Linked DNA regions of Homo sapiens. The protein of the gene in region 2 interacts with the protein of the main gene of each other region in a pairwise test. Each region holds a gene or a part of one and is shown on either strand. Other genes may lie near its edges.

What was found.
Region 1: the proteins of KRT40 (region 2) and ZNF488 interact in binary tests that used the Homo sapiens proteins (3 or more experiments, as listed by UniProt).
Region 3: the proteins of KRT40 (region 2) and UACA interact in binary tests that used the Homo sapiens proteins (3 or more experiments, as listed by UniProt).

Annotation. Positions count from the first base shown.
Region 1 is NC_000010.11:47,367,294-47,374,293, forward strand, and holds part of ZNF488 (zinc finger protein 488), read right to left. Parts: intron 1,645-7,000; 5' UTR 1,537-1,644; coding exon 514-1,536; 3' UTR 1-513. UniProt on the Homo sapiens protein: Transcriptional repressor. Plays a role in oligodendrocyte differentiation, together with OLIG2. Mediates Notch signaling-activated formation of oligodendrocyte precursors.
Region 2 is NC_000017.11:40,981,220-40,988,758, reverse strand, and holds the start of KRT40 (keratin, type I cytoskeletal 40), read left to right. Parts: upstream 1-4,432; 5' UTR 4,433-4,485; coding exon 4,486-4,932; exon of another isoform or gene 4,933-5,630; coding exon 5,631-5,713; exon of another isoform or gene 5,714-6,295; coding exon 6,296-6,452; intron 6,453-6,779; exon of another isoform or gene 6,780-7,434; coding exon of another isoform or gene 7,435-7,458; exon of another isoform or gene 7,459-7,539. UniProt on the Homo sapiens protein: May play a role in late hair differentiation.
Region 3 is NC_000015.10:70,753,559-70,760,558, forward strand, and holds part of UACA (uveal autoantigen with coiled-coil domains and ankyrin repeats), read right to left. Parts: intron 1-7,000. UniProt on the Homo sapiens protein: Regulates APAF1 expression and plays an important role in the regulation of stress-induced apoptosis. Promotes apoptosis by regulating three pathways, apoptosome up-regulation, LGALS3/galectin-3 down-regulation and NF-kappa-B inactivation.

The DNA.
Region 1 (7,000 bases), on a different chromosome or scaffold from region 2:
TAGTACAGACATCATCACAAACCTTGTTGACTCAGTGCTCAGGGTCTGCAGGCAGAATGCTGGCCACTTTCCACACACCTTTCATGTGACCTGAATGCCAACCTAAGACACAGTGTTATCATCTCCATTTCACAGATGAGAAAATGGGGACTCAGCAGGTTAAAGCTCTTTGTCCAGGGTCACAGCTAGTATGTGAAAGAGCCCAGATTCGAATCCAGGCTTGTGTGCCTCCAAAGCCCATGATGTGTGCCAGGAGTTGCCCCTGCTCTCTGTGCCTGTTAGGGCCTCTACCCTGGATTTGCAAAGCCCATCACTTTATTTCAGGACTTCATTTCCTTCAAAACACATCATGCAGGTGTGGCTTTTTCAAATTATGCCTGAGCTGTTTATCTATGAATGCCAAAAGCAGCAGCTCTGCAAAGGACCATGACAGCCCCCTCAACGCAGGCCCAGGGAGCCCCCCTCTGCCAAAGGCTGGCTGCTGCACCCAGCAGGTCATTCTGCGGTCACCTGCTAGCTGTGAGAAGTCATGTGCCGGGAGAGGTGGTGGCGCTCCCGGAAGTGCTCCTGGCACACAGGGCAGGCAAGGGCCTCTTCTCTCCGCTTCTGAGAATGTGGGTCAGGCCCCGCATGCTCCTTTTTGTGGTGGGATCGCATGTGAAAGACCAGGTCGGACGTTAGGCGAAAGGACAGGTTGCACTTTGCACACCAGTTCTGGGTGGACAAGCCCAGGGAGGTGAGGGTGGGTGGCAGGAGGGCCCACGAAGTGGTGGAGGATGATGAGGGTGGGGGCACCTGGGCCTGGGTATGCTCCAGCCACAGTGTAGGGGCACCCAGAAAAGTGCTACAGAGTGGAGCATTCTGTGGCAATGCTTGCAAGTTCCACAAATCACCAACCAAAAGCTTGGGAGTTGAAAGTCGACCCCAACAAGCGAGGTCTGTAGTGTTGAGGAGTCCAGACAGCTCCCCCAGGGCATCTGCAGATTCCCCTGCAGGGAAGACTGAGGTTAGCTCAGGCCTCTCTGCTGGTCGCTTGGTTGGTTTGCTAAAGGCGCTTCTTTGCTCACTTCGTGCTCCGCTGGGCCACACAGAGAAGACTTTGCTGCCAGCTGGGCCTCTGGGGATGTTCTGGGTCAGCTGTGGGGCACCAGGTTGGCCTGTGGGGTCATCGTGCTCCCTCTCCTGGGCCTGAGCATCCACCTGCCGGTCCTTCATCCTCGGCAGCTCCGTGAAGGCGCTCTGCCTCTGCTCTCCACGTGTCTTCGGGGGCAGCGGCTTGCCAGGTCGGGGCTTGCCTGGGGCTACCAACAGTGCCAGCTCCGCACTGCCCACATCCCGGCCCGCCCTGCCCACAGCAGCCTCAGGGCCCAGGCGGTTCGTCTTCTCGAGCAGCACTGGCTTGCAGCCCCGGCCCAGCTCAGGTTCGCTAAGTCGCCATCTGTTTTCAGCCGATGGGCTCAACGGGGCTCCCTTCCCAGCTGCCATGGTGATCACCAGGGCCGGGGCCACAGATAAGCAAGGTGGCCACTCTGGCATTCATCAGTCTTTGGGGGTTTGGGGTTCTGGAGGGCTTGGCCCAGCAAGGAGCCATGAGATATGGAAGCTCCCCATGACACTGGGCTGGACACACTCGGCCACAGGGCCCTGCAGAGAGAGGAAGCGACAGGCAGTGAGATGGGCATTCATCACTCAGGCACAGTGCATCATGAGCTGGCATCAGACAGGACCCTGATGCTCAGGCCTCCTCCGCTGTCTGTGGGATGGGTGTGCTGACTGCACCACCTCTCAGGAGACAAGGAGCATGGATGGCACCATCCTCCAGGGCCCACCTCCCTGAGGCAGAGTAGGGACTGAGGTCTCTGCTGAAAATGCCCATGGGCAGCAGCCTCTACAGCTCAGTAGAGAGAAACGTAGGATTCCCCTGTCAAAAGTGGTTCCTGGGGATTAACCAGGCATGAAATGGAGAGTCTGCAGGGGAAGGGAAAGAGCCTGCTCTGGGGGCTGCATTAGGGCCTTGGGGGCCCTTCAGAAGTTTCTGGGTCATCTGTCAACAAGTAGACTCCATCATGAGGAAGCCATGCACCCTCAGCCCCTGCTCCATGCTCGAGCTACCTCTGGCCCTGGCTGAGTGCTGAGGGCACAGGGAGGCCGCAGCATGAGGGTCGCAGTGTTGGAGGACCATGGACTTCATGGTCTTTGCTCCTCATGCAGCCCTCTCTGTCCCGACCCTAATTTCAACCCATTGCTCCTCGGTCTACCAGACCTGCCTCCCAGCCTGGTGGCCCCTTTGTCCACATCACATGCCCTGTCAGCTTCTGCGCGGTCTCTGATTTTCTCAGAGCCATGCTTCTTGTGAGAGTCAAGTGTCCCCACTCTTCCCCCAACTCCCAAGTACATGTGGGCAGCTTCATTCCCATCGTACCTGTGAACTCATTCCAAAATGCACCTCAGGCACAGTCTCCCCTTGAGGCTTGCCCAGTGCTCTCAGACACAGACAACACTCCCTCCTCCATGCCCTCACTGTCCTGGGCACCAAAGGCCTGCATGCACCACGTGCAACATTATATTTACTTGTTTGTGGTCTGCTAGAAGGCAAACTCTAAGAACCCAAATATGTCAATTCACCTTCACATCTGTAGTACTTAATCAAGCCTGCAACAGGACAGGAGCTCAGGAAGCCTTTGCTGAATGAATGAATGAATGAATGAATGACAGGACAGCAACTGTTAGAAAGAAGTCAACTTCCTCCTCCCAAAGAGTGTGGAGACCTGCTCCTGCACAGAGAGGAGAATGTGAGCCCTCCATATTCCCATAGGGCCAAGGGAGGAGACATCCGCATGGTGAGAAGGGCGAGGAGCCTACTGCAGCCTGCCTCTGAGCTTCTCCACCTCCTGCTCCTTCCCTGTGCTCCTTGCTGGGCACTTGGCCCCTGCCCAGTCCATAGCTCAGGCGCAGGTGGGGAAACCACTAGCTGTAGCAGAAGGGTATGCTTTGCTTTCCAACTCTGATGTAAAATCAAACTATGAAGCTCCACCAAGGGCGTCCAACCTATTCCCATTTCCTCATCTCCCCTTGGTTCCAACCCCAGTGAGAACCCACCCAGCTTTTCCTTAGGGAAATAGCCCACCAGCCTGTATTCTGAGAGCTCTCTAAGAATACAGCTGATTGGCCTGTGGGTGCCAAGAGTCACCTTAAGGGTGGAGGTCACACAAGGGCCTGGAACTCTGAAAGTACTCTCCCTCAGGCGCTGGACTAACAACAGTCTGACCATGGCTGGAAGAGGCAGGCTGAAGGGTCAGATCTGCCTAACAGGAGAGGGAAATGAGGCATGGTTTATAGTGGTGAAAGCAACAAGCAAGTAAATGCGTAACTCCAGAGACATGGTGAACAAAGCAGGATGCATACGCAAGACGAAGCACTGTGCAGCCTCGGACAGTGATGCTCGCTATGCTTATGAACGAATGCTGAGGAGGCAAAAGGACAAAAAGATTATAGATTTGGTGTAACCTATTCTATGCACACACACACACAAAATGCATACACCAAAGGAAAAACCCCAGGAGGAAACACAGAAAATGACCACCAGGTCATTTGTTCATTGATTCCCTCTTCCGTTCATTCCGCAAGCATTCACTGAGAGCATGCAGCATGCGGGCCCTGTGCGAGGCGCGGTAGTGACAGTGGTGATGAGGCAGTCCTGAGTTCAGCTGTACAGAACACAGGGACCTGCACATGTGCCAGTGTTGCAAACAGGCAATGGTGGCATCTAAACTGAGCTCTGAGGACCCAGAAGGGACTGCCCAGGGTTCACAAGAAGCTTGCATGGGGCCTGTGGTGTGGAAAACCTGAGGGCTCTCTGGGGAACTGAGCCTAACATAGTTCTGCAGTGGGAGAGTGCCCGGGGAGGGGCAGGATCCAGAAGCCAAAATAAAATGGACCTGACTGTTTTTAGAAATAAATGATTCATTTTTTAAGTGTGGCTATAAAGACTACGCAATAGTATGGGAAAAAAAAGCTTATAATACAATGTTAGTGTCAGATATAAACATGTTGTAAAACAAAACAGGAAAAAAGCCTATCTACCAAATAAACAAAAACATGAAAGAAAACATACCAAAGCAATAGATATGTGAAAAATAATTTTTACTATGTACATACACCATATAACATATAGTATACATAGTATGTATACATAATATACCATATAATACACTATATATGTAATGTGCTATATACTATGATGATGCTAGTATCATGGAATTTGGGGGAGTTTTTTCTCAACTTTCCAATATTTTCAAACTACTCTAGTCTTATTTTAGCATTTTGTTTTGTTCTGCAGTCAACTGTTTTAAAGGCGGCAGTGCCCTTTTCTGCTTGGTCGGGGTCAGAATTCTGTAAGGGATTCTCACGGCCCAGTGGAGCTGAAGCCTCTGTGACTTCAGAGATGCTACTTTCCTAACTGCTCCAGGAAATCATTCTGAGGTGAATTCCTCCCACTGTCTACTCTCCTTTGGAAAAGAGGAGTCCTAGCCCCCACGCTGGAGTGCTCTGGCTGGAGTTTCCTGGGAGCGGAGGGGCCTTCCCAGTGGGTGGACTATTTCTCATGGGGGCTTCACAGTCTGTTTCACACTGCCTAGAGAGACCCCTCCTCTGCCAAGCCTGGAACTGAGCATTCCCTGGGCCACAGGAACAAAAGGAGAGCTTTGGAAGAAGGGTGAAATGCCTGGGCACTCAGATCAGATCAGATCAGCTTTTAGGCAAAGTGCATTTCATTTTCTGTTCATTCATTCACTCAGTAAACATGCAAAAAGCACCTACTATGTGCCAGGCTCCAGTCTACATAAGACTGGTGACTCTCAACACTGACTGAATTCTAAGTAGTTGGAAATGACTGGAGAGTAGGGTGAGTGTGCAGTGTGGCCTGGAGAATGCATGTGGAGTTCAGAGTAGGAAGGTCCCCTGTGGAGGCCCAGAGAAAACTTCAGGGCTAGATGCAGTCCTGAAACAGCAGCCCTGGCCCTGCCCATGCTTGAATGCAGGAAGAGAACCTGAAATGTGGGGACAAAGAGCAACTGGCCAAGAACAGAGCCGGTGATGCTCAGGGGAGGGACACCCTCCTGTCAGCCCTCCCCACCCACCCCTTCTATGCACCAGCCTGTATCCAGTAACATGTCGCAAGGTCTTTGCTGGAAGCTCAAGCCTCCTCTGCTTTCTAAGCATGGAGAAGACAGAGACCAGTGTGAAGTATAGGTCAAGAAAAAAAATAAAGAGAAGGAGAAAACAGAGAAAATGCATAAAGATTCCCAGCTTTAAACCTTCTTCCACCTCCATCGTTGCCCCAAATTCCTCCAGGGCTCTCTGTCATGAAAATTTCAGAAAGTGCATGAGAAAACTTTGCAAATGAAGTCAGGGGTCACAGGCAGGGGAAAGTACTGGTCTCAGACTAGGCCAGATAAAGAAAAATATCAAAGACATCAGGAGAGCACCGACCTCGCCCATGGGATGCCTGCCGCAGTGAGATGCCACGCACCTGGCCTAAGTGAGAGGTGGACACACTCCCCTGGCAGCCACCATCTGGGGGTTCAACCTCATGTGTGTCCAGAGCTCTTGATGGGTGATGGAGGGATGGGCAGAGGCTGCTTCATCCCCACTGGAATCAGGCACCTCCTGCCGGGTGTTGACACAGATGTGAGGAAGGAAGGAAGCCACACCTATGGCAGACTGAGCTCTGTGGCTTACTCTGCCTTGGCGTGTCATGGGGCCACTGACCCCCATCACACTAGATTTTTCCAACCCCAGCAAACACACAGAACTCAGCCACCCTCACAGAGTCTCAAAAATAAAGGCTCTAGTGCTTGGCAAGTAAGAAATTAGGTCCATGCATGTGGCAAAAGTTAGACACAGTGAGCTTTGCTGGTTTTTCCCTCTGTTTTCCTTCCTCGGCAACATTCTTAAAAGAAAAATCAAAATAGTAATTACAACAAAAATGTCCTTGTTATCCTTCAGAGAGCACGGCACTGTATTTTCTTCACTCTAATGACTATTGCATCTATTTCCAAGCTTCAGACTATTAATAATACACAGGAATACCAAGAAGCAAATTAAAACAGAAAGGCACAAAAAGTAGAATGGGAAAGACGTGGGTTTGAATCTCACCTCCACGCATTTATTATGGAGCTTCAGTTGTGTAATGCAACTTCTCTGAATACTGGGCAATCGTGAAATGAGTGGGAACATAATGCATTTAAATAGGATAATAATATCTAGAAGGAGGCTCCCACCTCACCCGGCCCATGTCAGTGCCTCAGGAACGTTCATTTATTTCTTTGTGATCAAGGGACAGGAACAAAATGTACGGCATGGAGAAGTAAACAAAAGAATCAATGACTGTACACAGCCATGCTGCTGGGACATGGGACACCTTCTCCAAGCCCAAGATGGAGAGAGGCAAAGTCTTCCATAGACGGAACATCACTCTCCTAACTAAAATAGTTGCATTCTCAAAGATACAAAATGTGCCACTTTCTTAACTGAATAAACGCAGGCAGCATGGCGAGGAAGGACGGCCCAGCAGGCCTTGCCCAGTGTACCCTGAGAGAACACCAAACATTCTGCTCTTAGGTGCTCCATCCACCTACACTGTTTTATTCCCATGCCTTCACCAGATGTTGAAATGTGCTGCCAAATCAAACCTAGACGTAAGACAAACCAAAATAACAAGGAAAGCTTGCTGGTTAAGACTGAGAAACAGCGTGGGGTGGGCAAAAGCTAAGATGCTCGGGTATGAGTCTCAACTTCAGTGTTTCTAGATGGCCTTGGGCAGGTCCTTGTCCTTCAAAGATCTTGCTCAGCTGCAAAATGAGGAGGCTGCACCAGGTGTCCTCTATGGTCCTAAATACTATAAGGCGCCGAGTGACATCTTTATGTGGCATTATGATGCATCTTTTGTGATCAATCTGGTTTTTTAGACATTATTTTGACAAGCTAAAGGGCAAAAAAT
Region 2 (7,539 bases):
TTGATGGGGGAAGCATGAGATAAAACACAAATTACCAATATCTGGAATTAAATAGTGAGAATTTATAGACACTGCAGATACTAAAATTCATGATAAGGATTATTATGAACAACTTTATTTCAGTATTTTTGCAACTTAGGTGAAGTGAACAAACTCCTTGAAAAATGCAACTTTCACACAAAATGAAATAGAACAACTGAATAGCATTGTGAGGTTTCTATAAGTAGAGGTAAGCAATTTGATGTAGAGGTCAGCAAATATACATATATTTGCGTGTGTGTGTGCATGTGTGTGTGTGTGTGTGTGTGTGTGTGTGTGTGTGTGTGTGTGTTTGAAATGGAGTCTCACTCTCACCCAAGCTGGAGTGCAATGGTGTGATCTCGGCTCACCGCAACATCTGCCTTCCAGGTTTCAGCAATTCTCATGCCTCAGCCTCCCGAAAAGCTAGGACTACAGGTGTTCGCCACTATGCCCAACTAATTTTTGTATTTTTAGTAGAGACAAGCCTTCAGCATATTAGCCAGGCTGGTCTCAACCTCCTGCCCTTAAGTGATCTGCCTGCCTGGGCCTCCCAAAGTGCTGGGATTACAGGCTTGAGCCACCGCGCCCAGACATTTTTTTTCCTAGTTAAAAACAAAACACAACTTTTTCACATGGGAGACTCCTGGAAGAGGTGGCCTCACTGGACTCCATCAAACATTTAAGGAATAAATAACACTAATCTTACAGAATTTCATGAAATAAAGAGGAAACATTTCCCAATTTAATTTATGAACAGTATTACTCCATTCTCACACTGTTATAAAGAAATATCTGAGACTGGATAATTTATAAAGGAAGGAGGTGTAATTGAGTCCCAGTTCCACATGGCTGGGGAGGCCTCAGGAAACTTACAATAATGGTGGAAGGGGAAGCAGGCACTTCTTACATGGGGGCAGGTGAGAGAGAGCGTGGGAAGGAGGAACTGTCACACACTTACAAAACCATTAGATTTCCTGAGAACGAACTCACTATCACAAGAACAGTATACGGGAAACTGCCCCCATGATCCAATCATCCAGGTCCCTCCCCTAACACGTGGGGATTTGGGGTTTATAATTTGAGATGAAGTTTGGGTGGGGACGCAGAGCTAAGTCATATTGTGAACCCAGTATGTAACTTGATACCAAAACCTAACAAGATCATTAGAAGAAAAGAAATTTACAGGAAATATTTCTCAAGAACATAGATGGGGGTGGAAATCCATTTGCTAATCCTATCAACTAACTGAATAAAACAATTTACATAAAGGATAATGTAGAGTGACCAAGTTATTCAATATGATTGATCATGTTGTAGGGTCACCCAGATCATCCCTCCACTTCCTTCTTTGCCTTGGGAAACAGATTACCTTGACCACCCTGTGGCCCAGCCAGCTGTGTGTTTCCCCTGCAGCTTGAACCCGAGCTGACCCTTGAACATTCCCAGGCACTGTTAAAAGTTATTTAGGTTGTTGCCCAAAACAGTGAAAATCAACCAAGTTGCTGCACGTGGATACTAGCTCTGGCCCTGAGCCAAATTTCTTAAGGCCTCATGTAAACTCTTATAACCTGTCGCACAAATGTTAAAAGCAACAAGACAACTGCTATAGCAGAGATGCGTGCAAAGTGCTCTGGGAGGAGCCACATCTCCACATGAGGCAGTTGAACGACGTTTCAGCTGAGTCTTGACATGTGAGTTCATCCAGGAAACGAATAGCAGAAGAGCATTTGACCAAGAAAATAGTACCTACGAAGCTTGAAGGATGGCTGGAGCTTAGGGTTTGTGAGACAGAACATCAGGAAGTGAGCCCAGAAAGGTAAATTGGCACCAGGTTAGGGAAGGTCATATTTGCCAAGGTAGAAAGTTTGCATTCCATAAGTGGAAGGCGACAAAAAGCAGGTTTGTATTTTAGGAAAATGATTCTGGCAGCCTAGGTGGATGTTGTAAGGTAAGAGCATAGTATTATGCAAAATAAACTACCGTGTTGTTGTCGGTTTTTTTTTTTATCATGGCCTTTCATGATGTCTATTTCTTTTTCTCTATTCCCAATGTTCCTTTCTTCTGGTGATGATATGCTATAGAAATTGTCACGGGTGATTAGCAACTATCTGGGGCTGGTGGCATGGGGGTAAGAAGAATTTATCAAGATAGTTGTAGGTAAAGAAAGGCAGATATATTAGAGAACGTATGAAAATACGTTGCAAGGAAGCAATGGGCAGCACAGCAGAGAAGGGGCTGTCTGCAAGGAGACAAAGGCGTGCTGGAGATTTTACAGGATGGTGCTTGTACTGTGTGCTGAAGAGGGTTTGTGTGGTACTGATAACACTAAGGTTGCAGTGAGCTAAGTTACATTTTTCTATCAGCTGAAGGTCTGGTGATAGCTGGGTGCAGGAATATTGTGCAGGAGGGCTATGTGTCCTGGACCATGAAGAAGGTGAGTCTTATACATTACCTGCTTTCTTTCTTTGTTTTTTGTTTTTTGGTTTTTTTTATTTATTTATCACATTGTGCAGGTTAGTTATATATGTATACATGTGCCATACTGGTGCGCTGCACCCACTAACTTGCTTTCCTCTGGTCCTGCCAGCCTGACTTCTTTTCCCTAAGGAGGACTCCACAGAAATGAATTCTGGGTGATTTCTATATTCTACGATGGAGACTATAGCTATAGATCATTATACAACACTACCTAATTAATCAAGACCAAAATAAATAGTCCTACCTGCAGGACAATAACCAGTAACAAATAATTTACAATTAGAAATTAGTTCCAGACAGAAGGAAATATTTCTTATTTTACCTGCACTTACATGACTGCATTTTAGCTAACTGGAGCCTGTGATGGACAACCAAAACATGGGTTTTCTTCACAGATATTTTTCTTTTGACTCATTAGGTTACTGTGAAAAGATAATTTTCTTTCAGAGATTTGTAATTTTTCAGAAGTGTTTTTGAATCCTTGAACTCATATTTGTTGCAGAGCAGCGTCAATATACCATGAGACACTCTAAGAACTTTTTGCATAAGTGTTGATGTGTAAAGAGAATCACTAAATTCAAACCCAGCTCTGCCCAGGGAGTAATAAATCCTAAGAGACTATTTTAACTCACTTACATATGTTCTTCTGGTTTGGTTTGGTTTGGTTTCTACTATCAGGTACCTAGGAAGTAGCACTCAAGATTAGGAGAAAAAATAAGTTTATTCTGGATCAAAAATTTTTTAACTTTTTCAGATTAATCTGTTTTTTTCCTATAATGTTCTTAAAAATTCTAGAGACAATTTTCTCTATGCACCTTTGAAAATGAAATAAATGTAACGACTAAAACCAAGCAAAGTGAAATAGATTATCCTTCACAATGGAGGTGAAATCCAAGAGATAATTCAAAAAAATTACGTATCTCAAGTTCCTGTCTGTCAGATTTGGCACCAGAGATTTCATCCAGTGGAATTACTGATTTGGAACCTAAATAGAATTTTATTTTCCAAGTTCCAGTATTTTCAATTTTCATGAAATTCAGGCCTTCATAAATAAATAAATAGGAGAAAACAGGCTCTACATCTCAGAAGAAAAGATTCCTGTGGGTTCCTTGCCCCTACTCTGAAGTATAATCATTAAGGAATTCCCAAGGGACTAAAAGGTTATAACTTAGAATTTATATTTCACTCTTATTAGGAATACAGGTAAAATAGTATAACTTATCTAACAATAAGCAATGAGAAATGTGGAGAAGGCAAGTTTCAGGAAATCAAAGATCATAATTCCAGCTCTAACCAATTTATATTTTAGCCTGCAGAAAAACAAGTTATTCCTATCAGTTATGTAAAGTGACTTTTCCATTTGTACGCAGGTAGACATGGTTTGCACACACACACACACTTTAAACCCAATATATAGCTCACTCCTCCAGTCTTTATCAGCACATGCTCTGAGATCACAAAAAGCATTGAAAGATTACTAATCACACTGACCATTTTTATGGTGGTGGCACAAACAAATAATTGTCATTTTGTGAGCTGTAATACTAATTTTAAAAGGGGACACAAGCAATCAATCCACAGAATCAAAATCTGTGGACATATTATTTTCCTGATTTGTAATGAGTTGTATCTATAATTATTCATTGGCCAAATTTTCTCTTTCTTTTATTATTCTGTCAAAAGCACAATGCTTCCTATGACGATTTTCTGAAATAAGTGTTTTGTCTTGCACATGGAAATGGTGTGGGTCCTGCTTTGGTAACCTAAAGTTATCCCTATTTTATGAGGCATAAAACTCTTCCTCAGTAAATAAACAACTCTAATGAGATGTTTGTACGAAAACTGGCACCATCAGTGATAAAGAAAACATCCGGTGCAGTCTGTAAACACCCATTTTGGGGGGTTATAAAACTCTCAGGAGAGGAGAGTTTTGGAGTCAAGGCAACTGAAGTTTTGCAGCCAGTCTCTGTCTTTGCTTCTGGAAGGATGACTTCTGACTGCTCCTCCACACACTGCTCTCCTGAGTCCTGTGGCACGGCTTCCGGTTGTGCACCTGCCTCAAGCTGCTCCGTGGAAACAGCTTGTCTCCCCGGTACCTGTGCTACATCCCGATGTCAGACTCCAAGCTTCCTATCCAGGTCTCGCGGGCTGACTGGTTGCCTCCTGCCATGCTACTTTACTGGGAGTTGTAATAGTCCCTGCTTGGTGGGGAACTGTGCCTGGTGTGAGGATGGGGTGTTCACTAGCAATGAGAAGGAGACGATGCAGTTCCTGAATGACAGACTCGCCAGCTATCTGGAGAAGGTGCGCAGCCTGGAGGAGACCAACGCAGAGCTGGAATCCAGGATCCAAGAACAATGTGAACAGGATATCCCAATGGTGTGCCCGGATTATCAGCGTTACTTCAACACCATTGAAGATCTCCAACAAAAGGTCTGTGTCCTGTTGCCCTAGTGCTCCACCTTCCTGATCTATGGTTTGCTTTATCTTTCTACTAGAAGGGGCTGTTTTACAGAAGGAAACCAAGGGAAAGGAAAATTCTAAGAGTTAGTGATACATAGGGGAGAGCACCGGACTGAAAGTCAGAAAACCTCAGCATCAGCCCCAGAGCTACCCCTGATTACTGAGTGACTATAATAAAGTAACTTGCCTGTAGACTTTTCCTTCATCATCTATAGAATGCAGAAAAACTGTATTATATCCAAAATCGCTTTTGTACGTGACACTGAACATTTACATTATCTGAACACAGATCATGAAATGCCATCTTTTTAACTACCTAGTAATCATTTTCTTCTCTCCATGAATTTCTATTATTATGGGAGAGGATATACTCATAATACAAACTACTGATGGAGAAAACATTAATGGTGTTCAACTGCCTGAGAATGTTGCAAAATGTCTTATGTTATTAAAAAACTAAACCTTTTTATTTCATTATTTTGTTTCTAAATTGGCTCTGCTTTTTTTCTTCATGAAGTGACAAGGTTAATAAAAAAAAGCAGGCTGAGGGTGATTTTATACTTTCTTATAAAGACTTTCAAAAGATAGCTAATGGCATAGCTGTTGGATAGAAGTTTACTTAGGTTTCTCTCAAAGAATCATTTATCACATAATGACTTGCTTCCCAGATCTTATGCACGAAAGCAGAGAATTCTAGACTTGCTGTACAGCTTGACAACTGCAAACTGGCCACTGATGACTTTAAGTCAAAGTAAGTTTAATTTAATTTTATTTTATTTATTTATTTTGAGATGGAGTTTCACTCTTGTCACCCAGGCTAGAGCTCAATGGTGCTATCTCAGCTCACTGCAACCTCTGCCTCCTGGGTTCAAGTGGTTCTCCTGCCTCAGCCTCCTGAGTAGCCGGGATTACAGGCAGGCGTGCACCGCCACACCTAGCTAATTTTTGTATTTTTAGTAGAGACAGGGTTTCACCATGTGGGCCAGGTTGGTCTCGAACTCCTGACCTCAGGTGATCTGCCCGCCTTGGCCTCCCAAAGTGCTGGGATTACAGGCATGAGCCACCACGCCCGGCTTTAATTTTAATTTGAAAATAACTTATGGCTCTCTCTCTCTCAATCTCTCTCTCTCACACACACACACACACACAAATATTCTCTATATAATATTTTAAAGTTAAGAATGTTTTAAAAGCTTGAATTTATCATTACTTAGGAATTAAGAGAAATTATGCACATGGCTTCCTGAAGTCCGTGTGTCGATCCTCCATGTATCCCCACACTTTGCACAGCGTTCAGCAAAGTAAGCGTTGGATTTCTCTTTTGCTGTGAAAGGTACGAGAGTGAACTGTCCCTTCGCCAGCTGTTAGAGGCTGACATCAGCAGCCTGCATGGGATCCTGGAGGAACTGACCCTGTGCAAATCTGATCTGGAGGCCCATGTGGAGTCTCTGAAGGAAGATCTCCTTTGCCTTAAGAAAAACCATGAAGAGGTAAGGAAAGTGGCAACTCCGCTGAAGGACTCCGAGAGTAACGTACTTACATTGACAGATGATCTGTTGATGTTTGTAAATCGAATTTGGGCAGATGTTGTTTAAGCTGGAATAAAACTACTTGAGGCAGGGCCAGGCATGGTGGCTCACACCTGTAATCCAAGCACTTTGGGAGGCTGAGGCAGGAGGATCACAAGGTCAGGAGTTCGAGACCAGCCTGACCAATATGATGAAACCTCATCTCTACTAAAAATACAAAAATTAGCTGGGCATGGTGGCAGGCGCCTGTAGTCCTAGCTACTCGGGAGGCTGAGGCAGGAGAATCACTTGAACTCAGGAGGCGGAGGTTGCAGTGAGCCGAGATCTTACCACTGCACTCCAGCCTGGGTGACAGGGCGAGACTCCATCTCAAAAAACAAACAAACAAACAAACAAACAAAAACTACTCGAGGCATTATTACTATTCAACCTGATCATTCCAGTGTGTCTCTGATTTAAGGTGTGAAATAACCCCTAGACAGCGCCAGAGGAAGGAATCAAACTCTTCTCCTGCCCTTGCCTTTGTGGAGGAGGTAACTTCACAAATGGCTTCCTTTGGAGGCTTTATGCCACCCCTAGCTCCAGTCCACAGGGTATGAAAATCAGGCTGAGGAACAGACTGTGAAGTCCATTTCAAAAAAGGGATAAAGACTGTGCACTATCTGGACCAGTGTTTTTAAATATTCCGCATTTATAAACTTCTAAAAATCATAAAATATACAGCCACTGATATATTGATAAAGCTAGAAAATGAAAAGCTGAATGATGTAACAAAGTACATTTGCTCTTTGAACGTTTGTTGATGACAATCATAGCTAACATTTATTGACACCTTACTATGTGTCATAATTAACTTTTATAAGTTAATTATGTGTAGATTGACTCTTCTAGATCTCACAATAACTTTCTGGAAAAATGTCCAATTATTATGTCCATTTTACAGACGAAGAAACTGAGGCCCTTCTAAGTGGTGAAAAGAGATTCAGCCCAGGCAATCTGAATCAAAATCTCACACTTTTACCCACTGCTCCAAAAAACAGAAGTAGAA
Region 3 (7,000 bases), on a different chromosome or scaffold from region 2:
TCTTGGGCAGGTAAATTATTTAACTTGCATCTGAAATGATGGCAATAGTACCTACTTCTTAGGGTTGCGGTGAGGATTGAGTTACTAGCACTTAGAACAATGCCTGGGAAATACATGCTCAATAAATCTTGGCTATCAGCACATGGATTTCTCACAAGCAGTTTCTTTCTAAGTAACTCACTAGCATTTACTGAGTACTTCTAATTGGGACATTTGTATGTGCTCAAATAATTTCAAATTACTTATAATTTTTTTTGTTGCTGTTGAGACAGAGCCTCGCTCCATCGCCCAGGCTGGAGTGCAGTGGCGCGATCTCGGCTCAATGCAAATTCCGCCTCCCAGGTTCACGCCATTGTCCTGCCTCAGCCTCCCGAGTAGCTGAGACTACAGGTGCCCACCACCATGCCTGGCTAATTTTTGTATTTTTAGTGGAGACAGGGTTTCATCATGTTGCCCAGGCTGGTTTCGAACTCCTGACCTCAAGTGATCCGCCCACCTCGGCCTTCCAAAGTGTTGGGATTACAGGCGTGAGCCACTACGCCCAGCCTATATTTGGTTTTCTACAATGAACATGTATGACTTTTGTGGGACAGTCATTTATCCTAACTGGTTGAGACATTCACCTGCGCTCTCTCAAGGATACCTGGCCAGGTCCCATTCAATTACAGACAGTCCCCAACTTATGATGGTTAGACTTAGGATTTTTTGACTTTACAACAGTACAAAAGCTACATGCATTCAGCAGAAACTGTATGTACTTTGAGTACCCGTACAACTATTCTGTTTTTTCACTTTCAATAGAGTATTCGGTATTGAATTCATGAGATATTCAATACTTTCTTATAAAATAGGCTTTGTGTTAGATGATTTTGCCCAACTGGAGGCTAAGTGTTCTGAGCATGTTTAAAGAAGGTTAGGCTAAGCTATGATGTTGTGTAGGTTAGGTGTCTTAAATGCATTTCGACTTACAATATTTTCAACTTAAACTGGGTTTACCAAGACATAACCCCATAATAAGTCAAGGAGCATCTGTATAAAAATACAACTCATCGATCCTTTGCCAGTGCCTTTGGTCACTCAGCTACATCAGTTCATCTTCTGCATATCATCTTGGAGACTGTATCATTTGAAAATAAGTCAATGTCAACAATATTTAGGATTTCTGACAATAAAACAAAGCCAACAGACAAAACTGTTTGTGTGACTACAAACAATCCAATTTATTCTTGTGTTTTGGGGCTACATTTTTAAGCCTGGAAGAGACATTATCTTTTCTAATGATATAAAAGCTATATAAAGCTTTTAATTGTATTATGATTAAGGAAAATAAGGCAATGAGTATTATATCCTATTGTTCCATTTATAATTTCAGGCAGCACATTTCAACCATCCATTTTTAGGCAAATTCCCCACAGAAATCAATTTGACTTCCTTTGCATAAATAAGCACGTGCAGGTGGAAATTTCAATAATATGCTGTATCCTTTAGGTGGCAGGACAAACATTTGCAAAACTGTAACAGGACAGTAAAAGTTTCCATATGATAGTGATGAAACAATACATGTTATAACGTTCAAATCTATTATTCTTGGATCTAGTTTACCAAAGATACAAACATAAGTTAAACAGGGCTGATAAAATCAAAATTTTGCTGGCTATTAGCTAATTCTAGAGAGGAAGGGAGAAGCAGAAAGATGAACTTATAAACTCACTAATAGGATAATTTCTGAAGATGAAACTTTCATGACTAGTCAGTTCTCTCTGAACAGTGATCTAAACTTGTCAAGTAATTTAAATTTTAATTCAAGGTTTAAAAAAAAAAAAGAATGAGGCCGGGGGCAGTGGCTCACGCCTATAATCTCAACAATTAGGGAGGCCGAGGTGGGTGGATCGCCCGAGGTCAGGAGTACAAGACCAGCCTGGCAAACATGGTGAAACCCCATCTCTACTAAAAACACAAAACTTAGCCAGGCATGGTGACAGGAGCCTGTAGTACCAGCTACTCGGGAGGCTGAGGCAAGAGAATCTCTTGAACCCGAGAGGCAGAGGTTGCAGTGGGCCAAGATTGCGCCACTGCACTCCAGCCTGAGCGACAAGAGGGAGACTTATTCTCAAAAATAAAAAAAAAAAAGAATGAATGAAAACCTTCCTTTACCACAATCCCCAAGCTGCACGCCCTCTAACTCCCTATTTTCAATAGAATTCTTATTTGAAGATTTGTCTATGCCTCATCTGTGCCATCCTCTACCATAAAACCAGAATTAGTTTCCAAATCTGATGCTCCCTCAGCTGTATAATTTCACAGCTCCATACCACTGCATTTGCTCTTCTTTTGCTTGGAAAGCCACTGAAATTGTCTTTCTGGCCCAAGCTCACACTCTACCTTTCAACCTTTTTATGGGCTCACTCTACACTCTATGTGCCCCCACAGCAATTTATACCGACTTCTATAATAACTGTTAACATGCCATATTCATTTATTTTTTATATCTAGCTCTTAAAATTCTTGAAGGCTGTGACTAGCTCTTTCTAATTACAGTACAGAAATTTTAGGACATACGCTAAATACAACAGTATCACAAAAGTGAATAAGCATCATGAACCACCCAGCCGCAATTTTTTTTTTTTTGATGGAGTCTTGCTCTGTTGCCCAGGCTGGAGTGCAATGGCATGATCTCAGCTCACTGCAACCTCCGCCTCCCAGGTTCAAGCAATTCTCCTGCCTCAGCCTCCCTAGTAGCTGAGACTACAAATGACCATGCCCAGCTAATTTTTGTACTTTTAGTAGAGACAAGGTTTTACCATGTTGGCCAGGCTGGTCTCGAACTCCTGACCTCAAGCGATCTGCCCACCTCGGCCTCCCAAAGTGCTGAGATTACAGGCATGAGCCACTGTACCCAGCCCCAAATGCAGTTACTAACTCAAGACCAATCCTATTGCAACTATACCCCCAACTTACTATCCCCACCCACCCAAAGATTATTTTGAAGGAAATCCCAGACTCCAAAATATTTCTTTGAAAGATAAAGACTCAGCTGGGCGAGGTGGCTCATGCCTGTAATCCCAGCACGTTGGGAGGCCAAGGCAGGTGGATCACCTGAGGTCAGGAGTTCAACACCAGCCTGGCCAACATGGCAAAACCCTGTCTCTACCAAAAATACAAAAATTAGCCAGGCATGGTGGCGGGCAGCTGTAATCCCAACTACTCGGTAGGCTGAGCCAGGAGAATCACTTGAACCCGGGAGGCGGAGGTTGCAGTGAGCAGAGATCACACCACTGCACTCCAGCTGGGGCAACAGAGTGAGACTTCATCTCCAAAAAATAAAATGAAGGATAAAGACTCTTTATAAACACAGCCACATTACTACCACTGTCACATTTAAATGTTTCAAATAATTCGATATCATCAAGTATCCAGCTGATGATTATATTTCCTCGATTGTTTCATAAACTTTTACTTTTTACAAGTAGTTAATCAGGATCTAAATAAAGTCCATCACGGCAATTGGCTAGTATGCATTTTAATCTCTTAAATCTCTTGTAATCCATAGGTTTCTCCTCTTTTTCCTTTTCTTACAATTTATAATTTTTAAGAAACCATTTCATTTTTCCATAGATTTCCACAATCAGAATTTTGCTGATTGCATCCCTATCTTCCTTTGTTCCCTGTATGACAATAATCAAAATTATTGTATGACAATAAACAAAATCATGGTTATAGCTAAAGGGTGATTATTTTGGCAAGACTATTAATAGGTGGTAATAAGTATTTCCACCACAAGATATATTATGCCAGCTTGTCTTTCTTTTTGAGACATTAGTAGCCTCTGACAATCATGTCTATAGACTCTAGATTCATTAATTCATTAGGAGCTGTAAAGTTATGATATACTAACTCTATCACCCCTTCTTCATATATTAGCTGGGACAGAATACATGATATACTAATTACATCATCCCTTCTTCATCTATTAGTGGCAGTAAAGTATAACTAAAACAGACACTTCCTCTTATCAGCTATTTGGCTACCTTGAGATACAGTTCTCACAGGAAATGCACAATAAATGTTTTATTATTTCCCTTTATTTTCCTGATCTTGAAAGAATGCATCACTTTCCTAGCATCCTCCAAAAGTCAAGAGTTGTTTTTATTCTTTTGGTCATCATTACAAACTCATGGATTTAAGGATTTCAGTGCACTACAGTTGCTATTCTTACTGATGATCAAACTGTCCCATCTTTGGGCAACTGAGAGCCTCTTGGAGTTGGCTCCAGAGTCCTAATCTTTGACAGCCTCTTTACACTCCAGCATGACAAGGGCACTCCAAGTTCATCCTCCACACTTTCTGCTTTCAACTTGGAATTATCCATTTCTTCGAAGAGGACCTAATTAATCCATTATTGAGCCTATGTGTTCCATAAATGTTTTCCAAACTAAATAAGGCAACTGCTGAGCAAAGTCTACTTCCTGAACTAATCATTTTTAATTTGAACAATGCATATGATGTACCATAAGTATATATAATCATTACACCATCCTTATTAAAAAACTAATTAAAATCCTTTACTCATCACCTAAAGTTCCTGGACTCATTATGCACCAAAAGACCCACCAAACCACTCTGCTTTGGTATTACAATAAAATTCAGCAATTCAAATCAACATAATGTTCTGAATAAACTTGCTGCAGGGTGAGGGTTGAAATCAAAAACTATAAAAGAAGGGTTTCTTTATTGTAATCCTCCTTCAAGAAGCACAAGAAATTCAACGCAGGGATAACCATAGGAAGTTGTCTGAATACAGCTTTAATTAAGGTAAGCATTTTTAATTTAAGGTTGGAATAGTTAATGACAATGAGTAAACAGTGCTTAAGTATCATGAGTTTAAACTAAACATAACAATTTGTTATCTTATTTACATTACCCAAAAGTCGCTGTTATGAGAATAACATTAAGATCTTTTCAAATGCACCCAAATCCCTCAGTGGAAAACACAAAGCCCTCATTCTCAAAATCAACAACTAAAACAAAATCATGTTTAATCCTTTATGCTTTCTAAACATCTCAAACTAATGTTATTAGTGGAAACAGAAAATGTTTTTGAAGATTTTTTTCAGTTGCTATATTTGTAACTCTAAATTCTTTTAGAAATACCAGTATTTTTTCGCAGTGCTGAGGCATTATAGCAAGATGCTTTAAAACATATTTAGTTCTGATTTATAAAATTCACTGCCCCATTTTAAGAGCAGCCTAGAGAAAGGGCAGCAAAAATAATCACTACAGAACCTCTCAGGTCAGAGATTACTTCTACAATCAAAGTACTCTGCTACGACTTTGTTTGTTTGTTTTTGGAGACAGGGTTTCCCTCTATCACCCAGGCTGGAGTCACAGTTCACTGCAGCCTTGACCTCCTGGGCCCAAGTGATCCCCTCACCTCAGCCTCCCAGGCAGCTAGGACCACAGGCATGCACCATCACGTCGGGCTAATCTTGTATTTTTTGTGGAGATAGGATTTCACCACGTTGCCCAGGCGGGTCTCGAACTCCTGGGCTCAAGCAATCCAATTTAAAGTGGAATCCCCTTCTAAAATGTCTGCTTACAATATCTGTTTGCAGCACTTCTACTACTTCTGGAATTACAGTCCCTTAATTTATATTAAATTTCCTAAACTAGGTGAAAATGGAACAAGCATATTCTCACTATACATATAACTGAACACACAATTAACCAGATCTGGTACAGTATTTATAGTCATCTAATTATCCCTTTTAGAAATCCGAAGCTCCAACTTAGTAAGTGATTAAAAATAAATGTAACAGGCTGGGCACGGTGGCTGATGCTTGTAATCCCAGCACTTTGGGAGGCCAAGGTGGGCGGATCACCTGAGGTCAGAAGTTTGAGAACAGCCTGGCCAATGTGGTGAAACCACCTCTCTACTAAAAATACAAAATGAGCCGGGCATGGTGGCAAATGCCTGTAATCCCAGCTACTTGGGAGGCTGAGGCAGGAGAATTGCTTGAACCTGGGAGGCGGAGGTTGCAGTGAGCCGAGATCACGTCATTGCACTGCAGCCTGGGCAACAAGAGTGAAACTCCATCTCGAAAAATAAATAAATAAATAATAAATGTAACAATAAAAACACTCTTCATTTATGGTTAACAGATGCAGCCATCTCCAGATTTGCTAGTAAAGGACTAATCCACAAATGTAGTTTATCCAGAATTTGTAATTGTGAACTACATTTATATGTGTACAAACATTCCCATTTAGTAAACTCTAAATTCATTGGCATATTTATAACAATAGTACTATTCAGAATATTCAAAATTACTACTTTTGCCCATAATCTGCACATAATTCTAATTTAGCATGCTAAGCTAATATGCTGTATTCCACATATTATGTAATAAAATACTGCATATGTCACATACCTCAGTCTACTGCTGTGTCTTCTTCAGATAATAAGCTTAAATACACAAAGGAAATTATTTATGAAATAAACATTTTAAAATTTTATCTCAAATCAAAGTTGTGCAAAGTAAATAGTGACTATTTCCAAAATAATTAAATGAACAGTTTAAGACCCAAATTAAGTACCCATAGAGGAAAGAGAAGAAAGTAAGATGTACTTTAACACCATAATAAGTATCTTATGTATCAAAGACTTAAATGTAAAAAAAGAAAAAAAACTAGAAGAAAGTTGGGGAGGGGGGTTGTTTAATATTAAATATCGCAGAGTGGAAAGGCCAAGATATTACATAAACCTAAAAATCATAAAAGGTTATAAATTCAATTGTATAAAAATAACCACCTTCTCTGCACAGCAAATGCCACCATAAAAATGTCTTAAGACAAACAGCCAATTAAGAAATAATATTATTCAAATGAAAAGGGCTAATTTCCCTGATATAAAGTATATACAAATGAATAGGGAAAAATATCGACAACCCAATAGAAAAATGGAAAGGACAGGCCAGGCGCAGTGGCTCACGCCTGTAATCCC